3 separate regions of the Homo sapiens genome follow, and regions 2 and 3 are each linked to region 1. The links come from fine-mapping of genetic effects on plasma protein levels. A gene starts in region 1. Each other region holds a variant in brackets. All regions are shown on one strand. Distances are between the middles of the regions. Region 1 holds the start of CD109 (CD109 molecule). Region 2 overlaps LOC101928516 (a long non-coding RNA gene). Region 3 overlaps LOC101928516 (a long non-coding RNA gene).

The links. A credible set is the group of variants that fine-mapping cannot tell apart. PIP is the posterior inclusion probability: the model's chance that the variant is causal. Protein levels are from antibody-based Olink assays in UK Biobank. Linkage for the fine-mapping came from a reference panel and not from the study's own genotypes, which makes the PIPs less certain.
Region 2: its variant is the best candidate, but not a certain one, in a credible set for the plasma level of the CD109 protein (UK Biobank, PIP 0.67).
Region 3: its variant is the best candidate, but not a certain one, in a credible set for the plasma level of the CD109 protein (UK Biobank, PIP 0.52).

The regions. Positions count from the first base shown.
Region 1 is chr6:73,689,378-73,697,556 of GRCh38, forward strand. It overlaps CD109 (CD109 molecule), which reads left to right and starts at 6,826. Exons shown (of 33, transcript NM_133493.5): 1 at 6,826-6,912; 2 at 8,023-8,179. The coding sequence starts at 6,839. It overlaps CD109-AS1 (CD109 antisense RNA 1), which reads right to left and starts at 6,754. Exons shown (of 2, transcript NR_110889.1): 1 at 6,455-6,754; 2 at 4,526-6,198. RefSeq lists enhancers at 6,456-6,715, 6,669-7,383 and a silencer at 6,946-6,995.
Region 2 is chr6:74,575,998-74,584,153 of GRCh38, forward strand. All of the region lies in intron 2 of LOC101928516 (a long non-coding RNA gene), which reads left to right. Among named protein-coding and RNA genes, the nearest start is that of SNORD156, 550 kb to the right of the region's middle. The variant A/G (reference allele first, on the strand shown) is at 3,180.
Region 3 is chr6:74,241,413-74,249,600 of GRCh38, forward strand. All of the region lies in intron 1 of LOC101928516 (a long non-coding RNA gene), which reads left to right. Among named protein-coding and RNA genes, the nearest start is that of CD109, 550 kb to the left of the region's middle. The variant G/T (reference allele first, on the strand shown) is at 3,953.

The DNA.
Region 1 (8,179 bases):
GTAGTTTGTGTTGGGATTGAATTGACTTAGAGGATGCTCAGCTGAGTCTGCTGTAGAATCTGCCAGAGAATTGATTGCTTGGTCAGCATGGGAGAAGCTCTTCTATGCATTTTGGTGGCCAGTGTGTTATATTGAGTGTATAAAAGTGGGAAAACCACTTTGGTTCAGTTTTTCTTATATCCTTACACTACTTTATAGTCTTAATATGCTTATGACATATTTCTTGATCCAAGAAAACTGTAGACACATTTTTTTTTTTTACTTTATAAGGCTCTTAGTGTCTCAGTCAATGCTTTAATTCTTCATCCCTCTTTGACTTTGTAAGTTTTTGTCATCTGTGCTCTTTTCAAGTATTAACACCATTTACATTGTTTTGTAAACATTGTGTATTTCACATATTTCATCAAATCTAAGATACACCACTTACTTTAATACCAAGAAAGAAAATTTATTGTCAATTATTATTATGATACCATTGATTATAAGATCAGAAATGTTACAAATGTGAAAAACATATATTTTAGAAATGGTGAAACAGTGTAATTAAATCTTCTTTGTCAATTCTTTTATTCTGTTATAAATCAGTAAACCATACTTACATCAACACAACTAATTATTTTTCACTGCAAAGCCAACTAATGAATCATGATATATTCTTTTTTATTCAGTGTTTGCTTTTCCCTTGAATTTCTAAATTCCCTTCCTTTTTACTGCACTATTTTACTTTATCATAGTCTCAGTTTTCTTGTATTTCATTATGTACATCTATTCGATTAAGATCCCTTTTATTTCCCTTAAGAGCTTACTCCTGGAATTTTTCCTATTAGAAGTTCTCTCTTCATTTTTTTCTGGGGTTATATATACATTTCCCTTTTTCTTGGCTTATTTCACTTCGTTGCTAAATATGTCTTCCTAAAGTAACTTCCTAAAATGAATTTGTGAAAGGCGAAGTTTCTGAGCCATTCCATTTCTGAAAATGTTTTTATTCCTTTTGTTTGTTTTATTATGCAGGTGATAAACATTTTTTTTGTTTGTTTTTTTGAGACGGAGTTTCGCTCTTGTTGTCCAGGCTGGAGTGCAGTGGTGTGATCTCGGCTCACCGCAACCTCCGCCTCCCAGGTTCAAGAGATTCTCCTGCCTCAGCCTCCTGAGTAGCTGGGATTACAGGCATGTGCCACCACGCCTTGCTAATTTTGTATTTTTAGTAGATACGGGGTTTCTCCATGTTGGTCAGGCTGGTCTCAAACTCCTGACCTCAGGTGATCTGCCCGCCTCGGCCTCCCAAGTGCTGGGATTACAGGCGTGAGCCACCGTGCCCGGCTGCAGCTGATGAACATTTTATTTAAAAAAGGTTTGTAAAACATGAGGAAATGCTTATGATGGAATAATTAAATGGGAAAAGTAGGACACAAAGCACAAAGTTGTATTATATTTATAACATAATTACTCTTTAAAAAAGATACCAGCAAATTATGTGGAGAAAGAAAGAGAGGAAGGAAACACAACAAAATGAAATAATGCTTGTCTCTGGGTAGTGGTAAGACTGTAGCAGATTTTTTTTTCTCATCATCTTTCTACATTTTGTGTACTGAGCAGCTACTCTACCTGACCTCTCACCCCTTCTCCAGGGGAATAGATAGGGTCACCTTCATGTTTCTGCCGTGTTCCTCCCCTCTTCCCTTTCAGCCACCCACCTGCTCTCTGCTTTCCTGCTCTTCTCCCCGGCCACCAGAACCCACAGGCAATTAACACTTTCTGGACAAAGAAGGAGCCAAGGTTTTCCCCATCATTTTTCTAAAGGCAAAAGTGCATGGCTAGGGAGGGAGACTAGAAAGGCAACTAACTGCTCCCTGCCAGTCCTGGTCTCACCCCTTCCAATGTCCATCTGATTGGGGCCTGGACTCAGGTGGCCCCAGGAAAGCCTCCAGCTGGTGTTATGGACAGAGCAGACTATAAAGGGGAGGTGGGGTACCCCATACACCTGTATTTTTTACTTTCTGAAGCTTGGTTTAGAGTGCTAGGCAGTTGGGAACACTTGTCCATACTGTTACTAATGTGCCAGTTCACTTTGTGGGTTCAGGGCCACAGTCAGGCCTGTAGCTCCTTTAGTTCTCAGAGGCTCTCTTCCTTCAGTTTTTCTGAATTGTGGGCCAAATGTACATGAAGCTCTGGACAAAGGACACCAGCTTCTCCTGCAGGTTACTCATGACATGGAAGTTGGAGGTGGTAAGATGGACATGGGTTCCACTTCTCAATCAGTTTTTCTTTATTCTTACCCACATTTAGCTTTTCTCCCCTGGCTGACTCATAGTTATGTTATGCTGCACACCACACACAGGGGCAATGGTTTGCACAAACTGCCCTACCAGCTCCCATGATTGCTTAGGGTCTGTCTCACTCATAGTGGTTCTGCCTTTCTCATTGAATTACTCTGTTCTTGCATTGCTATAAAGTAACACCTGAGACTGGGTAACTTATAAAGAAAAGAAGTTTAATTGGCTCACAGTTCCACAGGCTATATAGGAAGCATGTCAGCATCTGCTTCTAGGGAGGCCTCAGGGAGCTTTTACTCATGGTCTCAACTTTAACATTGCCAAAGTATGGCAGAAGGGGCTGATGTATGGGCTCGTGGTATCTTACATGGCAGGAGAAGGACCAAAAGAGGTGGGGGGAGGTGCCACATACTTTTAAACAACCAGATCTCATGAAGATTCACTATCGCAAGAACAGCACCACGGGGGAAATCTGCCCCCATGATTCAATCACCTCCTACCAGGCCCCACCTCCGAAATTGGGGATTTGACATAAGATCTGGGCAGGGACACAGATCCAAACCATATCAACACCTTAAAGACAGCTCAGGAGGGACACAGGAACAGTGTGGGGTTCTTATCCAAGAGACCATTAGGTTTTCATGCAATAAGCATAGATGATATTTTTGGTATCAAAATTCAGAAGTTTTATGCAAAAGAGCTTCTAAGATGCCCCCTCAAAAACTATTTACTAAAATAATATTATTATTGTTTTCTTCTTAAAGGAGATATAATATATATTTATTGTAGGAAACTTGGCATATCCAGGTAATCACCAGGATACTGATAATAGCATTTTGGTGAATATCCTTCAAGTCTTTCTTCAGTGCATAGATCTGTAATGTCTATGTACACATAAATACACTTTATTTTTTATAAAAATAAAATGAAATTTAAATTCTGTTTTATAAAACAGACTTCCCCTCTGATATGGTTTGGCTGTGTCCCCACCCAAATCTCATCTTGAATTGCAGCTCTCATAATTCCCACATGTCACGGGAGGGACCCAGTGGGATGTAATTCAATTTTGGGGGTGGGTCTTTCCCATGCTTTTCTTGTGATAGTGAATAAATTTCACGAAATATGATGGTTTTATAAAGGGGAGTTCCCCTACATATGCTCTCTTGCCTGCCACCATGTAAGACTTGACTTTGCTCCACATTCGCCTTCCACCATAATTGTGAGGCCTCCCAGCCATGTGGAACTGTGAATCAATTAAATCTCTTTCCTTTATAAATTACCCAGTCTCAGGTATGTCTTTATTAGCAGGGTGAGAACAGACTAATATACCCTCCTTAATAACATATGAATATTTGTCTCTAGATGGTTAAACAAGCTCCAATTAAACAAATAGTTTTTAATTATTTCAGTATTCCATTGCATGGATATACTGTAATTTATTTAATCCTGTTTTTGTCTGTTTTGTGTTGCTATAAGGTAGTACCCAAGGCTGGGTAATTTATTAAAAAAAAAAGTTTACTTGGCTTACAATTCTGCAGGCTGTTCAAGAAGCATGACATTGGCATTTGCTTGGCTTCTGGTGAGGTCCTCAGGCTGCTTCCACTCATGTGGAAGGGGAAGGGGAGCTAGTGTGCAGAGATCCCATGGTGAGAGAGGAAACAAGAGAAGCAGGAGGTGCCAGGCTCTTTTTAACAACCAATTCTTGTGGGAACTGAGTACTCACTCACCCCCCGACCCCCAGGGAGGACATTCATCTATTCATGAGGATCCACCCACAGAACCCAAACATCTCACATTGTGCTCTACCTCCAACACTGGGGATCAAATTTCAGCATCAGCTTTGGGCGACAAACATCCAAATGACAGCAAACCCAATATCTTATTGTTACATGTTCAGACCATTTTCAGTTTTTCTTTTGAGACAGAGTCTTGCTCTGTCACCCAGACTGGAGTGCAGTGGCACCATCTTGGCTCACTGCAGCCTCCACCTCCTGGGTTCAAGTGATTGTCATGCCACAGCCTCCTGAGTAGCTTTTATTACAGGTATGTGCCACCATGCTGGGCTAATTTTTGTATTTTTAGTAGAGACAGGGTTTCACCATTTTGGCCAGGCTGGTCTTGAACTCCTGCCCTCAAGTGATTTGCCTTCCTCAGCCTCCCAAAATGTTGGGATTACAGGCATAAGCCACCATGCCCGGCCCATTTTCAGTGTTTCTTTTTTCTTTTCTTTCTTTTCTTTTCTTTTTTTTTTTGAGACGGAGTTTTGCTCTTGTTGCCCAGGCTGGAGAGCAATTCTGCGATCTCGGCTCACTGCAACCTCCAACGCCCAGGTTCAAGCAATTCTCTTGCCTCAGTCTCCTGAGTAGCTCGGATTACAGGCATGTGCCACCATCCACACTTGGCTAATTTTGTATTTTTAGTAGAGATGGGGTTTCACAATGTTGGTCAGGTTGGTCTCGAACTCGTGACCTTAGGTGATCCACCCGCCTCGGTCTCCCAAATTACTGGGATTACAGGTGTGAACCACCACGCCTGGCCTCATTTTCAGTTTTTCTTAATAAAAAATCCCACTTCTGAGATGAACATTTTTCATTAATCCTTTTAACACATTTTTATTGAATAGCTACTCTGTGCCAGGCATGTAATAGCCTCATCTCTATGCAAATCCATATGCCTAAATTTTTGCATGACTACGCCTTTCGACAAGTGTGTATTGTGGGAAGGAGGGCATAAACAGGAAGGTGGCATCACTTTAAAATCCACACAGATTTATACAATGTGGTTCTAAGACTTTCTGTAAGTCTTCTCGGGAGGCAACATTATCATCTAATCTTTTGCAGTCCCTCTTATGTTTGCCTACCTCTAGAATGAACCTGAATTTATTAATCCACCTTTATGAAGTGAAAGATTGAGAAGAATTTTCTGTGTTCTTAATTGCCTTTGCTCATCAAATTGCCCCCAAATTGCCCCCACTTGTAGAGTCTCCATGGCCTACTGTCTGCTAAAGTAAAGCAGAATCCCAGTCCTCGTTCCAGACCTGCCAAGTCAGAGTCTGTTTTCATGTGATTCTCACACACATTGGCATGTGAGAAGCACTGAGTTAGACCTTGGTGCTTGGCCCACCCTTGACCATGGTCCTCCTCTCTGAACAACGGAGGTGAGGAGACCAGTAGTAACAGCTGTGTCAGGAACAGGTCAGCACCCAGGGATCCACACAGACACTTTTGACCATTCCTAAGTCCTGCCTGCACAGGAAGTTGGCCACTAAAGATAGGCTGCCTGAAGGAAAGGACATAAGGACCTTTGCAAGCTGTTCAGCAGGGAGAAAAAGGGTGGAACAGGAAAGGGAGGAAAGCAAGTTTCTGGATTCCCCAAACCACAGTTTGTCTAGGTGCTACTTTCTCACTTTTCCTTATTTAGCACATAGCTTTGTCATGAGACATCTTTTTGCTGACCTCTTTTCCGTTTGCATTTTGCCCCATATTAGAATGCTACCATCTAAAACCGCTCCATGAATTAGAAAGTTTAAGTTGTCAGGGACTGAATGTGTCTGTTTTCCAACAGTTTCTGGCAGTTCCCTGCTTTTATGGTGTAGTCATGGTGAAACCTGAGTCATCTGAAGATGGTGGCAGTGCCAGAGAGCAGGAGAGAGGAGCTGCAAAGAAGCCAGACAGCGTTGGGCATCAATAACTCCTGGGCACCACCGGCCACTGGCCTTCATTCTGACAGGAGAGCCAACCCAACCCTAACTGTGTTCAGAGATTGCTCCAAGCTTTACAGTTCTACCAAATTCTTTCTGTAGCAAAAATATAAAGGCATCTTCTTAGGTAATTTTTTTTCAGGGTTCCAAGTAGCAACACCTAACGTCTGCAGTGCGAGTTCTCTTCTTCTTTTTTTTTTTAAGGTGATAAATCATAACATTTTCCTGGAAAGGAAAGCAGTAGACCTCATTTTTTGTTTTAAGGAAAAATAGTTTTTCTGTTTCCATTCATATACATTAAATAACTACCCAGGAAATACGCCCCGGTTTTGCGCGCGTGTGCGTGCGTGTGTGTGTGCGTGTGTGTGTGTGCCGTTTCTCTAAAATTCTGACTCATAGTCTGGAGGACAATGATTGACTTTTTTCCACTTCACATAGTTGCTATGAATTTCTCCTCACAAGGATGGGCCTGTTTACTCACCCTGGGCATCGTTGGTAGAGCGCTAGTGTAAACAGCCTGAGGAACCCGGTGGGCCGGGGAAGTGGGCGCGCTCTGTTCTCCGCGGCCAGCTGGGACGCCGGGCCAGGTGGGGCCGCCTGCGTTTAGCAACTGCTTTCTCACCCCCTGGATTTGCGATGTTTGCCACAGCAGCGAGAAGCGCCATTGTAATGGGGATGGGAGGGGTGGAGCCTCCAAGTCCTGTCTCAATTTAGATCTCTCACTCTGCTGTTAGGCGCGCCCATTTCAGATTACTAAACTCGAATTAAGAGGGAAAAAAAATCAGGGAGGAGGTGGCAAGCCACACCCCACGGTGCCCGCGAACTTCCCCGGCAGCGGACTGTAGCCCAGGCAGACGCCGTCGAGATGCAGGGCCCACCGCTCCTGACCGCCGCCCACCTCCTCTGCGTGTGCACCGCCGCGCTGGCCGTGGCTCCCGGGTAGGAACGTGGGCGCGCGGGGGGCGCGCGGGCGCGCGGGCCTGGGCCGCTCTGCGGCTCTGGGCCAGGGCTTCGGGGAGGTGGCGGCTGCTGTGCAGCAGCGGGTGGGAAATGCCCTCGCGGCTGCAGTCCCCAGCCTGGTACTGGCCTGGAGGTTTGACCATATGTAGCTTCAGCGTGGCTCTCCATGGGACAGTTAACTTTCTCCACTCATGAAGTTGTTTAAGCGTCTCCCCGGCCATAACAACTTTCTGAAGAGAGTCATTTTATTTTTAGTCCACATTGCCTCTGCCTTTTGCTTCTCAACTTTTTGCTCCCAGATTGCGATTCTTCTCTCAAAGACATGATATATTTTTTCTAACCAAGATGTCTCAACCTTAGCATTGCCAAAGTGTGGCGGAGGGGACTGATGTATGGGTTCAGGGGCAGACATTATAGGAAGAAAACAACAGCACCCAATAATGGCAAGCCCCATTCATTCCTAAAGATTTCTGTAGTTGAGCCCTAACCCCTAGTTATAGCAGAGAAAGTGCTGCTTTAGTGACTTCTTTTATGATTCGCTATACCTGGAATTTTCACCAGTTGTAGTTTATTTTCAAATGGTATATTTCAATCAATGGTATTGGTTAAATAATTTTTTACCCTCGTTGGGCAGCTACTCAAGGATAAAGGTTTGAATAAGAAACAGGCAAAATCTTAGTTAAAAAATAACAACAACAACAAGAAAATAATCACGCTGGGATAAGGTCCTCTGTAAAGGAGAAGCTTAGAGACTTTTGCTTTGCCAATAACTCCATTATGCCCCGGTGCAAGCCATTTACATCATGGTTCCTTCTGTGCGGTTCGTGGTTTATAAAATGGAAATAATAACACAGGCCTTCCTCTAGTAGTGATGCATGAATTACTGCATTAAAATTGATTTATGGGAATTATTGTTGTTTCAGTAGCATTTCAATTCAGTTGCCAAATAGAGCAGTGGGCAATGTTAACGGAAACAACTGCAATTGGCGCAGTATGGAGTGCCTATCGCACTAGGAAATCTGAGGGTCACAAAAGAAAGGAGATGTGAGGATAAGAAACTTTGTTTTTCCCTTGTTGGGAACTCTTTAGGCCTCGGTTTCTGGTGACAGCCCCAGGGATCATCAGGCCCGGAGGAAATGTGACTATTGGGGTGGAGCTTCTGGAACACTGCCCTTCACAGGTGACTGTGAAGGCGGAGCTGCTCAAGACAGCATCAAACCTCACTGTCTCTGTCCTGGAAGCAGAA
Region 2 (8,156 bases), 890 kb after region 1:
TCAAACAATTATTTAGCTTTGGTATCTCTATTATCAGATGAAACAGAGGTTAAAGCACATCAGTTTAGAAACATTTTTTATCTTGCTCATCACCATATTCCCATTGTTTAGAAGGGTGATGGGAACATAGTGGGATGACTATTTTTTGAATGAAGGAATGAATGGTGCCAGTGAGCATGACTTATGAGACCATAATCCAAAGCCATATAGCCCCTCTAATGCCAGTTTACTTGTCTCCAAAATAGTATTAAAAATAAATATACCCCATCTACCTTATGAATTTGTTAAGAGGATCAAATAAGTTAATTGTGTGAAAAGCTAGCAAAAATTTAAAATTATATATACATGTGGTATTTAATTATATACAAAAGAATGCAAATGTTACAAGTTCTTTCAATTTCTACCCAAGTAATAAATATACCTAAATTTGAGTCACCAACAGCACCATACTGCTTCCATACATTATCATAACCTTTTCCCCCAATTTTAAAGCACATTGAAACAGATTAAATAATTCATCAGAAAAATCAGATTATATATGGAAAAATTCCATCAAGAAATACGTTGAAAAATTCAACCATTACCATAACCTTTAAATTGAAATTCTATGTATCTACAAATATGGTAACTATTAGCAAAGCTTTATTTTTCTTAGGCATCAGAAACAAATTATTTTATTGTTTTGTCATTGATTCAAGTATTTAATAAGATCTTATATGGAGAACTTATAGATTATTTTAGAAAATACACTTCAGGCCAGCTGCGGTAGCTCATGTCTGTAATCCCAGCACTTTGGGAGCCCGAGACTGGTGGATCACCTTAGGTCAAGAGTTTGAGACCAGCCTGACCAACATGGTGAAACCCCATTTCTACTAAAAATACAAAAAATTATTCGGGTGTGGTGGCAGGCGCCTGTAATCCCAGCTACTCAGGAGGATCTCCTGAGCCTAGGAGGTCAAGGCTACACTGTGCCGTGATCATGCCACTACCAAAAAAAAAAAAAGACTAAGAAAAGAAAGAAAAAAAAAGAAAAGCAACTGAGTGAGGGCAAAAAGAAAGAGAAAGAAAAGCAAGTGAGGGCAAACAGTACCTGAGGATATGAAATATTTAAGGAAGGGCTAGGGACAAGATATCTCTGGTGTACCCACCGGTCCAGGCTTTTGCTATTGTACAATAGGGAAGCAAGGAAAATAAAAGAAGGTGTGAAGTAAACCTCTTGGTTTAGTGATTATCAGAGCTTGAATAGAAACAGAGTAAACTTGTCTGTAGAAAGATCAGTCAATGATGGAAATGTAAAGACACTTTTATCAGGTCCTTAAGCTCAGTATCAAACTGGAAACCAATAATTAAGTTCTAAATACTTATAATTTATTTTTTCATTTTTGTGAGTTTGGTCTAATGATCAAGCATCAGCATAATTTTGCTAAAAATAAATTTATGTTGCCTTAATATAAGAGCAACTTATTGACTGTGTCAATATAAAGGTGGAAAGTTTTAAAGCCCAGTAGAAATATTCTAAGTCCAAGAATAGCTTTGCTCATTCACTGGATAATTGTTTTTATATTAAGTGGGTGAGAGGCCAAACTGAGGCTGGACCCTGCATCTCAGGGCTGGAGCCTGGACTGTGGCTTAGGTTTCTAGAGGTATCATCAATACCCCTTTCCTGCAGCCAGAGAGACCACAGGTCCAACAACAGGAATACCACCTACAAAGGAATCTATGGGCTCACATAGTGAGGCTGTGTAACAAGAAGGGGAGAGCAATAAATTATCTACCCATTAGAAACAGGAAGGGAGACAGTGTGTGATAGCCAAAAAGCAGAACAGAAAGAACAGCTGAGAAGGCCTGAGAACCAGGTGAATGGCCTGGAGGAAGGATGGGGGCAAGCAATGTGGATAGCTGGACTCAGGGGGGTTGACCATTTAATATTGTAAACTGCTGAAACACAAGGGCTCAGGGAACTCTGATTATTTTTGTAGGCAAGCAAATATACTGCATGAACAAAGAATAGTTCTTGTATTATTTGAATTTAAAATGTAATTCTTAGGTAACAATATAGGAATTCTGTGGATCTTCATGAACTAGTTTCTGTATCAAGTTTGACTACATTTTATAGGATGAGAGTATATAATTTCATTGGCATACCTTCAGGGAAAGATCTGGAAAAAAAAACAAAAACAAAAAAAAAAAACAAAAAACCTTGCCCATTTTGTCCCAAAAAAGGCAAAAGCTCTGGGGAACCAGGATGAATCTGTTATTTCCTTTAATCCCCTAATAGTAAGGTTTTAATAGGTTCTTAGACATTGATCAGAACCATCTGAGGGTGGTAAGTGGGTCAAGGCTTAGCTCTCTGCCCCTGTTTGCTGTCTGTCCACACAATGGAGTATGTGAGTGAGTAAGCCTGTTGGAAGCTTATTTTTAGTTTCTCTAAAAGGAATTACACATGGGCATCAAATGAACAGTTAGGCCTTTAATGCCATAAAGGATCTGTTCCACACAGATGCAAGAATGTAAGCATTGTTTGTGATCTCTAAAGAGCAATTATATCAAGCAGGAAGGTTTTTTTTTTTCCCCTTCTGTGAAGTATATCATTTCTACACTACTTGATATTTTAGTTAGTTCTTCCTACTATGATTCAGAGGTTTTCTGGTGTTTTATTTAGAAATACCAGATGTTACACTGTAAGTAACTGGGGAGGATTGTGTATGACTATTGAAGTGGAAAAAGTAAAATTCTTTTCTCAGGGAAATGAATAAACACTTGCTTAGTAAAATAAGATAATAGCAGAAAGACTTGAAAACCTTAGTAGAATGGAAATCATATCATGCAAGAGACATTGTTTATTTTGTTAGCATATAAAATTTCAAATAGAAATAGGCTAACTATAATGTTTCCATATCGTGTTAGACCTTTTTGGTGAGTGCAAGTGGTCTGTCTGTCCACACAATGGAGTATCTGAGTGAGTAAGCCTGTTGATGATGAATTTTGGACAAATAAAATTGGTAGATTTGTTTCGTTTTGTTTAGAAGAATAGATCTGAAGTAAACATCAATTATTTTATATAACTTCTAATACTGAACTCTGTAGGGATATAGTTTTTTCCTAAGTATATATTTTATTTTATTCTTTTGACTCTCTTTGACACACATATAATCCAGTTACTCCCACTATATAAATCC[A/G]TGTAATGTTTTGAATCAGCAGAAAGCAGAGTAATGGAAATGTCCTTGTGCCAGAGTGCAGGGCTTTCCATTCATGTACCGCCAGGTTAAATGGAGTGCTATTTACAGGTCTAAAAATCCACAGGGAAATTCTGATTTAAGACTGACTGCAGTACTTCATAACTATCAGGTAGCATCACTCTGGCTAGCACATTCAGTTTGATAAACGGGGTCTGAACAAGACAGAGTAATATGGTTACTAGAACCTGGGCTTGGAGTCAGAGACTTCAGAGTTTACACAGGAATCTACCTTCAGTTGCTTACCAGCTGTCTGAATTTGGCTAGTTGCTTAACCTCTCCAACTCATTTTCTTAAACTGTAATAGGCTTAATAATGTGTCTCTTGAATGACTGTTGTGAGTTTGAAATAAATTAAGCTGTCTGGGGCGTATAGTCTGCTCAATAAATATTATTTCCTTATGCATTTTATATATTATTTAGCTACAAAAAATGACTGACATAAACTTTTTGTTTGTTTTAATCAAGCCTAAGGAAATAGAGCAGAAAGTTCACAAACCATTTGACAAGGATGCTGGAAATAGCATAGAATACCACCAAAACAATGTTAATATTAGTTTGTCATCATCTTTCAGATAAGTACATATAATTCAAATTACAAAAGAAAATCATGCAAAATAATAAATACTCATTAGAAAGTACAAAAAAATTACTACAGGCATGCCATCTTCTCACAATAACTGTGACTTGAACCCAGTTGTGTAAAACATGGTATTAAAGAAGCCAAGGCTGATTGCTGTATTGCAAATGACCTTTGTAACTTAATAGGCTCTCAGTCTAGAAAGACAAATAGTGCATGATCTCGCTTACATGTGGAATATAAAAAAGTCAAAGTCATAGAGCCAGAGAGTGGAATGGTAGTTGCCAGGCAGGCAGAGATGGGGAGATGTTACCCAAAGGGTGCAAACATTCAGTTATAAGACTAACGGGTTCTAGGGATCTAACGCAGAGCATGATGGCTATAGCTAGTGATACTGTATTGCATACTTGAAATTTGCTAAGACAGTAGATACTAAGTATTCTCACCCCCTCAGACACACACAATAATAACTATGTGTGGTGATGGAGGTGTTAATTAATTTGATTGTGGCAATCATTTCACAATGTACAGTATATGTATAGCAAATCATGTTATACATCTTGAATATATACAATTTTTATTTGTCCATTATACCTCAATAAAGCTGGAAAAAAAATAAGTCCTGAATCTTCAATCTCAAAATCTCAAACCTGGCCAGTGCGGCCTAAAGACGCCTAGGAAAGAATCCTTTAATTATTTGAGGTTTCCTTATTTTTTTATTCTAACATTTTGTAACCACCTTTGGTTCAGGAATTCTTCAGAAATATTGCTTAGGATATAGATTTTTGTATGTGTCAAAGCAGTAAAACATAAAGGCATATTAGTCAGAATATATGGAAATACTTATGCCTATCAATATAGATATTAATTATATGTTTACCTCTGTTAACTAAGATAATGGCAGAGCAGAATTTTAGCTACTATTAATTAAACATAATTTGGGGTTAAGAGGATATCAGAGTGGCCTAGAGTACCACAAAAATGAGTGGAATTCAATATTCCAAATTCTACCAGTTCATATATCAAACTGCACCAAATGGGGGATGCAGGTCATCTCAAGGAAGAGCAGTCTCATGGAGCATTTTCTTGTTGCTCCTCTCCAAGGAACGTGCCCACTGATCTGTTTGTCTTTCTCAAAGTCCAGGAAAATGATTTGAATTTGAACTACCAAAGGTGGAGAACTTCATTCTTCCACAATAAAAATAATATGAACACCAGATCAAAGTTAAGAAAACCCACCCTGTCCCACTCCCTATCTCCTTGTCTGTGTGCTCCAGGCAAACAATATTAAGGGAGGAATAAATTATCCTTTAAGTAAGTCAGTCACCTGTGCCTTTGCTCTTGGTACATGTGCTCTTTCCATGTTCCAGAAATCCTTCTAAGAGGTTAGATGCTATCTCTTCTGATTATTCCAACAACTTTATACAAGGTAAATAGATCTTTTATTATCCCCATTTTACAGATGAATAAACTGAATTATAGGGCTAAGTCAGCTATTTAAGGCCTTATATCTGGAGGTGCTGGCTCTCTAGTTTTAGAGCCCATGTTTTTAACCACTAAGTAAATAAGATATCCTAATTAGGGCTTTGAGAATAAAATTGAGTGCATACTCTAATTCTCCAACAAATGCTTGGCCTCGTTCTTCAGGTACACCAGATGTAAGGATGACTAGGGACCCATCAATACCTCTATTGGAAAGTTCAATTTAATTTATTTAACTCTATGCATAACTTTATCCTTGTGTTTCACAGAAAAAATGGCTTCAAAGATGGCTGAATCCTAATTCCTTGAACCTGTAAATATACTAGGCTATATGACAAAGGAGAATGAAGTTTGCAGAGAGAAGTAACGTTGCTAATCAGATGACATTAAAATATGGAGATTACCTTGGATTATGCAGGTGGATCCAATGTAATGACCTTAAAAGTGGAAGAAGTGGGACAGAAGAGAAGGTCAGATTAATGTGAGATGAGAGGTACTCGGCCTTCTATTGCTGACTTTCAGGAAGCGGGGGTGCCGGCAATCCCCAGTGCCCCAAAGGGTGTGTTACCAACTCAGCAGGGCTTTTGCCTCATCACATGGGGTGGCTGCCCTCTGCCAGCAAGGGCAAAGGACCAGTGTGACAGTCTTTTTGTGTTCCTGCACTCAGTGCATTCCGAATTCTTGTCTGGTGTCCAGGAAGAATCAGGTCACATGAACGGTTTGCAAGGTGATGAATGCAGAGTTTTTAGTTGAGTGATGGAAGTGGCTCTGGTGGAAGGGCGCTGGTAAGGGGATGGTGTGGGAAGAAGGTGATCTTCCCCTAAAGCCTGGACACCTCCTCTCTGAAATTGTGCCATCTGAATTTAAGCTGTGTCTATCCATAGTCTCTGACAACTCTCAGTAGTTTCTTCTCCTCTTGATATCCAGCAGCTTGTCTCTCTGCCAGCTGAGATCTGGGGTTTATATGGGCATAGGATAGCGGGGAGGACAAGCCAAAAAGCAGCATTCGGGTGGGAAAACAGGGATGTGAAGTTCTCATTTAGGGCCAGGGGCCCAGGCTTGAGGGTGGAGCCCTTGCATGGGACCCCATGCTCTTCTACCCAGTATTTCCTGGCCTCCTGAACATATCACAGCCAAGGAATGCAGGCAGCCTCTAGAAGCTAGAAAAGATAAAGAAACAGATTTCCTCTGGAGCCAACAGAAAGAATGCAGCCCTGCCACCACCTTGATTTTAGATGTCTGACCTGCATAACTGTAAGGTAGTAAATTTCTGTTGTTTTAAGACAGTAAGTTTATGATTTCACTATGACAGCAATTGAAAATTAATATGATCCTCCAAAAATAAAAATTTAAAAATAAATAAATTAACTAATTAAATAAAATACCCTGAGGTATTTTCATCAATGAGAGTTATATCATTGCTCCTCTCCAAGGAACATGCCCACTGATCTGCTTGTCTTTCTCAAAGTTCAGGAAAATGATTTGAACTACCAAAGGTGGAGAACTTCATTCTTCCACAATGAACATAATGGATGTGTGGATAATGAATAGTGATTATGGATAGTGGATAATGAAAGCGATAGTGAAAATAATGGATGTTTTTAAACATTTACTCAGTAGGTAAGGAAATTCTTTCAGAGGCCCAATTCAAACTCCAATGTTAGGGTGTTTTATCTTTGTCTTGCCCTCACAGCTCTGTCCTGAATGTCTGTACACCTTTTAATCAAATAGAAAGTTTTGACTGGCTATGTTAGCCCAACATGTTACTCCAAACCAGCATGTTTGGACTGGCTATGACTTCATCTCAATTTTAACTTAATCTTAATATTTTCTTCTTATTGGTCAGCATCAGCAGAGTGTTCACCTTATTAATGCATACCTTCAAGCCATGATTCATTCCCTTGAGAATAAGAATTAATTAGGTGTAATAACTAGGGCAAATTGACTATACTCATTGATGATATTATTCCATGGAAAATATCATGTACATCTTGTCTGTCATCATTCTGCTAAATAGCTGTGAATCAATACATTGTAGCTGTACTGAAGACAAAGGTTGTAATCAATTTATGGTCTTAGGCTATTTGCATGACTGAAATCTGAAAACTTCATGAAATCAGGGATCATTACAAATATCCCAATGCCTTGTGCCAGCCACAGAAACTCAGTAACAGACTATTTGACAGAATGGTGTCAATTTAATCATGACATTGCAATGGACTATAGGAAGAGTCAATAAAACACTGATAGTGGAGCAAAAATCTGGCGTGACACCTGACATTGAAAAAGTCGGATGGAATACAACCACATCCATTTGTTCTATGTTGTCTATAGCGGCTTTCACACAGAAACTGCACAGTTGAGTCATTGTGACAAAGACTGTATATCCCACAAAGCTTAAAATATTTACAATTTGGCCTTTTAGAGAAAAAGTTTTATGACCCTTGCAATATAAACACAGAAATCTCAGAGATGCTGTCTTCTTCCTAAACTTTAATATTTAATTCTGATTGTGGATGAGATTAGATTCTCCAACTTTCCATGTTTAAGACTCATTCAAAAAATTCATAAATCTCAAAATATTAGAAATGCAGGATATTGACTGATGACTTGTCAATTACATGATAAATTATCTTAACTATAGAATTAATATGCTGGATTAAGAAATGACCCTTGTTTATGCCTAAGCTTCTAGGGCAAGAAAAAAATGATCAGAAGGAGGAAGGTAGTTCCCCTCCACCTCAAGAGAAACCCTATTGTCATCTACATGTCTCTGGAAAACATTTTTTGAACAAATATGCCAACTAACCAAAAGATGAACATAAGAAAAGACTCAAGAGAGGAAAGACACTATTGAAA
Region 3 (8,188 bases), 550 kb after region 1:
CTACCTTATAATCCATTATTTTAACCTGATAACAACTTAACACTGTTTGCATCAAGAAACAAGCAAGAAGAAAACTAATAAAAACTCTGCACCTTAACTTCATTCCTCAGCTTTTTAACTTTTTATTATATTTATATTTAATTGTACTTTGTCTTGAAAAGTTGTAGTTATTATTTTTGATTGGCTCATAATTTAATCTTTCTATTTAGAATAACAGTAGTGTACACATCCCAGTTACAGTGTTGTAATATTCTACGTTTTTCTGTGCACTAACTACTGCCAGTGAGTTTTGTACCTTCATGTGATTATTTATTGCTCATTAATGTCCTTTGCTTTCTGATTGAAATACTCTCTTTTGCATTTCTTGTAGGACAGGTCTGGTATTGATGAAATCCCTCAGCTTTTGTTTTTCTGAGGTAGTCTTTATTTCTCCCTTATGTTTGAAGGATATTTTTGCTAGATATACTATTCTAGGGTAAAAGTTATTTTCCTTTGGCACTTTAAATATATCATGCCACTCTCTCTTGACCTTTAAGTTTTCCACTGAAAAGTCTGTTGCCAGACATATTGGAGCTCCTTGTATGTTATTTTTTTTCTTTTCTCTTGCTGCTTTTAGGATCTTTTCTTTATCCTTGACCTTTGGGAGTTTGATTATTAAATGCCTTGAGGAAGTTTTTTTCTGGGGGGGGGTTAAATTTGCTTGGTGTTCTATAACCTTCTTGTACTTGGATATTGCCATCTTTACTAGGTTTCAGAAGTTCTCTGTTACGATCTTGTTGAATAAACTTTCTACCCCTATCTCTTTCTCTACCTCCTCTTTAAGATTTTATAGATCTTGTAGGTGTGCTTGTTTTTTATTTCTTGTTTCTTTTGTCTCCTCTGTGTATTTTCAAATAGCCTGTCTTCAAGCTCACTAATTCTTTCTTCCACTTGATCTAATTTTTCTTTTTAAGGTCTCTGATGCATTCTTTAGTATGCCTATTGCAATTTTCAGATGCAGAATTTCTGTTTGATTCTTTTTGATTATTTTATCTCTTTGTTAAATTTATCTGCTAGAATTATGAATTCCTTTTCATATTTTCTTGAATTTCTTTGAGTTTGCACAACACTGCTATTTTGAATTCTCTGTCTAAAAGTTCACATATCTCTGTTTTTCTAGAATTGGTCCCTGGTGCCTTATTTAGTTCACTTGGTGAGGTCATGTTTTTCTGGGTGGCGTTGATGCTAGTAGATATTCTTCAGTCTCTGGGCATTGAAGAGTTACGTATTTATTGTAGTCTTCACTGTCTGGGCTTACTTGTAGCCATATTTCTTGGGAAGACTTTCCAGATATTTGAATGAACTTGGGTGTTTTGATTTAAACTGTATCTGTTTTAGAGGGCACCCCGAGCCCAATAATGCTGTGGTTCTTTCAGACTCATAGAGATACGACTTTTATAGTCTTGGATAAAAGATCCAGGATAATTTGTGGATTACCAGACAGAGGCTCTCGTTCTTTTGTCTTACTTTATCCCAAACATACAGAGTCTTTCTCTCTGTTCTGAGACACCCACAGATGGAGTTGGAGTGACACAAGCACCCTTGTGGCCACCACCACTATGGCTGTGCTGGGTCATACCTGAAGCCAGCACAGTGCAGTGTGTCACCCAAGGCCTGCTATAACCACTCCTGGGCTATTTCCTATGGTTGCTTATGGCCCTGGGGCTCTACTATCAGCGGGTGGCAAAGCCAACCAGGCCTGTGTCCTTCCCTTCAGGACAGTGATGTCCCCCACGCCCCAGGTGGCTGCTGAAGTGCCTTCAGTGAATCAGGGACTAAGGTCAGAAATATTAGAAGTCTACCTGTTGTTCTATCATATTGCAGCTGAGCTGGCACTGAAACCGCAAGATGCAGTTCTTCCGATTCTTCCCTCTCCCTTCTAAAGTAAGAGGAGCCTTAACCCATAGCCATCGCTACCCCAGGCCATGAGGAATGCTGCCAGACTACTGTCAGTATTCCCTTAAGGCCCAGGGTCTCTGAAGTCAGCTTGTAGTGAATGCTGCCTGGCCTGGGACTCAGCCTTCAGGGCAGTGGGCTCCCCTCTGGCCCAGGGTAGGTCTAGAATTGCTATCCAAGAGTCAAGTCCTGGAATCAGGGACCCCAAAACCCAGCTTGGTGCTCTACCACACTATGGCCACAGTAGTACTTAAGGTCCGCAACAAAGTCCCCTTTCCTTTTCCCTCTGATTTTCTCAAGCAGAAGGCATTTTGCCCCATAGCCACAGCAGCTGGTAATGTGCTAAATCTCACCTGAAGTCAGCAAGTCTCAGAGGCTCGCCCAAGGCCCTCCATGTAGTATCTGGGTATTGTGCTGGTTATTCAGAGCCCAAGGGCTCTTCAGTAAGCAGATGATGAATGCTGGCAGAGCTGGGTCCTTTCCTTCAAGGCAGCAGTTTCCCTTCAGACCCAGGGTGTGTCTAGAAATATCGTCTTGGAGCTAGGGCCTGAAACAAGGGACCTCAAGTCTCTTACGTGTGCCCTATCCTCCTGTGGCTGAGCAGGTATCCATGATGCAAGACATAGTCCTCCCCACTCTTTCCTCTTTTCTCCTCAAGTGGAAGGAAGGGGCTTTTTTTAGAGCCACAAGCTATGCATCCTGGGGTTAGAGGAGAAGTGATGCCAATACTCTATTGGCAACCCCGGTTGGTGTCTTAGTATGTTGCGTGCCCTCACAGTCCAGTGTCTCTGGGGCTAGTTAAGTCCTAGGACTCGTCTAAGAGTTGCAGTCCTTATGGCCTGGACTGCTTTTCAAGTTTACTTAGATACTGACAGCACTTTGGCCCTTGGTGGTGAGGTTTGTGGGCACTCAACTGTGGACCTCTGGGATTAGTGATTCCCCTCCCGCTAGGGCTGGTTTAAATGCTCCCTCTGTGGTGGACATCAGCTGAGTTTGGTCTGGCTTTCCTTTCTATTCCAACTGAACAGCGCTGAGTTCAGTGCCTCACAATCGCTTTGTTCCTCCTACCCCCGTGCCCAGAGAAGCTCTCTGCACCATGTAGACTCTGCCAGGGGTGGAAAAGGGGTAGCATCCATAAATTCAAGCCTGTTTTTTCTATCTCTTCAGTTCCTCTTTCAGCAATATGAAGTTAAAACCAGGACCATGAGTCCTCATCTGACTTTTGGTTCTTATGAAGGTGTTTTTTTCTGTGTAGATAGTTTTTAACTTGGTGTCCTTGTGGGAGGATGATTGGTGGAGTTTTCTATTCTGCCATCTTGCTCCACTTCTCCCACTGTGGTTTTGATTTGTGCTTCTCTAGTAATTAGTGACGTTGAGCAATTTTTTCATATGTTTATTGTCCATGTATATGTCTTCTTTTGAAAAGCATCTGTTAATGTTCTTTGCCCACTTTTTAATAAGGTTATTTTTTTTATTGTTCATTTGTTTAAGTTCCTTATATATTCTTGAAATTAGATCTATTTGGTTGCATGGTTTGCAAATATTTTCTCCCATTCTCTAAGTTATCTATTTACTCTGTTAATAGTTTCATTTGCTCTGCAGAAGCTCTTTAATTTGATTAGGTTTCACTTACTTTTTGCTTTTGTTGCAGCTTCTTCTGGCATCTTTGTCATGAAATTTTTGCCAGGACTTGTATTCAGAATGATATTTCCTAGGTTTTCTTCAAGAATTTTTATAGATTTAGGTTTTACATTTAAGTCTTTAAGTCATCTTGAGTTGATTTTTGTATATGGTGTAAGGAAGGGGTCTAGTTTCAATCTTCTGCATGTAGCAAGTCAGTTAGCACCATTTATTAAAAAGGGAGTGGCATAAAAAATTAATTTTTATAATCCATTTGTTGGAATCAGGTTTTAAACAAGGTTCACATACTATATTTGGTTAAAATGTCTTAAGCTTATTTTAATCTATGGTATTTTATTCTTTTTTTTATTATTATACTTTAAGTTTTAGGGTACAT[G/T]TGCACAATGTGCAGGTTAGTTACATATGTATACATGTGCCATGCTGGTGTGCCGTACCCATTAACTCATCATTTAGCATTAGGTATATCTCCTAATGCTATCCCTCCCCCCTCCCCCCACCCCACAACAGTCCCCAGAGTGTGATGTTCCCCTTCCTGTGTCCATGTGTTCTCATTGTTCAATTCCCACCTATGAGTGAGAACATGCAGTGTTTGGTTTTTCATCCTTGTGATAGTTTGCTGAGAATGATGGTTTCCAGTTTCATCCATGTCCTTACAAAGGACATGAACTCATCATTTTTTATGGCTGCATAGTATTCCATGGTGTATATGTGCCACATTTTCTTAATCCAGTCTATCATTGTTGGATATTTGAGTTGGTTCCAAGTCTTTGCTATTGTGAATAGTGCCACAATAAACATACGTGTGCATGTGTCCTTATAGCAGCATGATTTATAGTCCTTTGGGTATATACCCAGTAATGGGATGGCTGGGTCAAATGGTATTTCTAGTTCTAGATCCCTGAGGAATCGCCACACTGACTTCCACAATGGTTGAACTAGTTTACAGTCCCACCAACAGTGTAAAAGTGTTCCTATTTCTCCACATCCTCTCCAGCACTTGTTGTTTCCTGACTTTAATGATTGCCATTCCAACTGGTGTGAGATGGTATCTCATTGTGGTTTTGATTTGCATTTCTCTGATGGCCAGTGATGATGAGCATTTTTTCATGTGTTTTTTGGCTGCATAAATGTCTTCTTTTAAGAAGTATCTGTTCATGTCCTTCGCCCATTTTTAATGGGGTTGTTTTTTTCTTGTAAATTTGTTTGAGTTCATTGTAGATTCTGGATATTAGCCCTTTGTCAGATGAGTAGGTTGCGAAAATTTTCTCCCATTTTGTAGGTTGCCTGTTCACTCTGATGGTGGTTTCTTTTGCTGTGCAGAAGCTCTTTAGTTTAATGAGATCCCATTTGTCAATTTTGGCTTATGTTGCCATTGCTTTTGGTGTTTTAGACATGAAGTCTTTGCCCATGCCTATGTCCTGAACAGTAATACCTAGATTTTCTTCTAGGGTTTTTATGGTTTTAGGTCTAACGTTTAAGTCTTTAATCCATCTTGAATTAATTTTTGTATAAGGTGTAAGGAAGGGTTCCAGTTTCAGCTTTCTACATATGGCTAGCCAGTTTTCCCAGCACCATTTATTAAATAGGGAATCCTTTCCCCATTGCTTATTTTTCTCAGGTTTGTTAAAGATCAGATAGTTGTAGATATGCGGCATTAGAAGTTGAATCTCTGAATAGACCATTAACAGGCTCTGAAATTGTGGCAATAATCAATAGCTTAGCAACCAAAAAGAGTCCAGGACCAGATGGATTCACAACCGAATTCTACCAGAGGTACAAGGAGGAACTGGTACCATTCCTTCTGAAACTATTCCAATCAATAGAAAAAGAGGGAATCCTCCCTAACTCATTTTATGAGGCCAGCATCATTCTGATACCAAAGCCGGGCAGAGACACAACCAAAAAAGAGAATTTTAAACCAATATCCTTGATGAACATTGATGCAAAAATCCTCAATAAAATACTGGCAAACCGAATCCAGCAGCACATCAAAAAGCTTATCCACCATGATCAAGTGGGCTTCATCCCTGGGATGCAAGGCTGGTTCAATATACGCAAATCAATAAATGTAATCCAGCATATAAACAGAGCCAAAGACAAAAACCACATGATTATCTCAATAGATGCAGAAAAAGCCTTTGACAAAATTCAACAACCCTTCATGCTAAAAACTCTCAATAAATTAGGTATTGATGGGACGTATTTCAAAATAATAAGAGCTATCTATGACAAACCCACAGCCAATATCATACTGAATGGGCAAAAACTGGAAGCATTCCCTTTGAAAACTGGCACAAGACAGGGATGCCCTCTTCCAACATAGTGTTGGAAGTTCTGGCCAGGGCAATCAGGCAGGAGAAGGAAATAAAGGGCATTCAATTAGGAGAAGAGGAAGTCAAATTGTCCCGGTTTGCAGACGACATGATTGTATATCTAGAAAACCCCATTGTCTCAGCCCAAAATCTCCTTAAGCTGATAAGCAACTTCAGCAAAGTCTCGGGATACAAAATCAATGTACAAAAATCACAAGCATTCTTATACACCAATAACAGACAAACAGAGAGCCAAATCATGAGTGAACTCCCATTCACAATTGCTTCAAAGAGAATAAAATACCTAGGAATCCAACTTACAAGGGACGTGAAGGACCTCTTCAAGGAGAACTACAAACCACTGCTCAATGAAATAAAAGAGGATACAAAGAAATGGAAGAACATTCCATGCTCATGGGTAGGAAGAATCAATATCGTGAAAATGGCCATACTGCACATGGTAGTTTATAGATTCCATGCCTTTCCCATCAAGCTACCAATGACTTTCTTCACAGAATTGGAAAAAACTACTTTAAAGTTCATATGGAACCAAAAAAGAGCCCGCATCGCCAAGTCAATCCTAAGCCAAAAGAACAAAGCTGGAGGCATCACGCTACCTGACTTCAAACTATACTACAAGGCTACAATAGCCAAAACAGCATGGTACTGGTACCAAAACAGAGATATAGAGCAATGGAACAGAACAGAGCCCTCAGAAGTAACGCCGGTATTTTATTCTTAATGCCACTTTTTTAATTACAAAAAGTTTATTTTTTCAATAGAATTGCTATAACAAAGTTCTAAATAATAAAAAAGCTGTGTATAAATTAATTAATAGTATTCTATTTTCTTTCCTTGTGATGTAGTAAAAATGGTGCATCTCATAATGACACTTAGATCTGATGAAACAGAGTAAAAGTCAGTTAAATTTTTCTGTGTTCCAGCTTCCTCTTCTGTACAGCTAGAAGGTTAGATAAGGAATTCTGAGGATCTTTCTTGTTCTAAAAGTCTATGAATTTACACATATGAAAAGATCCTGTAAGCTAAGCTAAGCTAGTAGAAACAGATCTAAGTAACTTCTTTGCCCTCCTTGAAGTAAACTTAGAATATCTGTACATGTCTCCCAAACAAGTCCAATTTCACAGTGTTAGAGTATAACATCTATACTAAAGATTTTGTGGGTGATGCAGAATGTAGTGTCATAGGTTATAAAGCAAACCTTCAAAAACAAAGCCACTAAAAGTTCTTGTTCCATCCCTCTCCAACTTCTTTTTTAGCTTCTGTCTGCTTTTTCTGTTGAAACTCATCATTGCAGGTTCTCCAGTTTCATTTTATCCTTCTCTGCTTCCTGGAATTCTTATCAAATATTTATATCTTTATATTTCCTCATGCTTTTCTTTATTGTCTTTTTATCCTCATACCCACCACACTGATCATCAAACAATCTACTTCTTTAGAAGGCAAGTGGGAAAGTGGGAGGTTTTCTTCATAATAAATAATATTTTATAGGTACATTTATACTGAATTTTTGCCCTTATGAAGCACCTATGTGCCAGAAACTAGGCAATATGCTAGGAATAAAAAAAAATTCTCTCTTTTCCTCATGAATTAGTAGCCAGATTATTTACATGAATTAGAAAGAAGTCAAGGTTATGTATGAAGTAAAAGACAGTGTGGTGTGATTTTTTTTTAAAAAAAGGTAATTCATAATTTATTCCACTTTTGCAGTCATTAGATCTCCATGGAATATTTGCATATTCCCTTAGTGTTTGTGGGTGATAGAAAGCTATTGTAAAGCCAGAATTCTCCTGCCAGGATTCCATCAGGAGTTACCTGCTGGCTCGATGTCCCAGTCTGTGCTTAAAGCAGGATGAGAAAGCTTTGCCACAGGAAATGAGATAATGCATGTACAAACTCATTTATCTTCTCAGGAAAATACATTACTTTAAGTTGTATCTTTATGCTCTACACATTTTAACAGACACACAGCAGTTACCCTTGGTTTTTCTTCTTTACTGTCACTGATTCACAATCATAATTAAAAATGCCAAACGCATCTTTATGTGAAACAAAATAATTTTTTTCTTATTTTTATAGACAAAACCGTCCAAAATGACATATTTTTCTCCAGGAAAGACAGCATGTTGGTGTAGGAAACAGAGTTAGTGTGCTATGGAGTTAGAAGACCTGGATTTCACCATTTAAAAGCCATGTGAACTTGAGCCAGTCCCTGAACCTGTTTATTCATCTATTAAATGAAAAATAGGAATCTCTCTAATTCATGAAAACTTTGAGAAGAT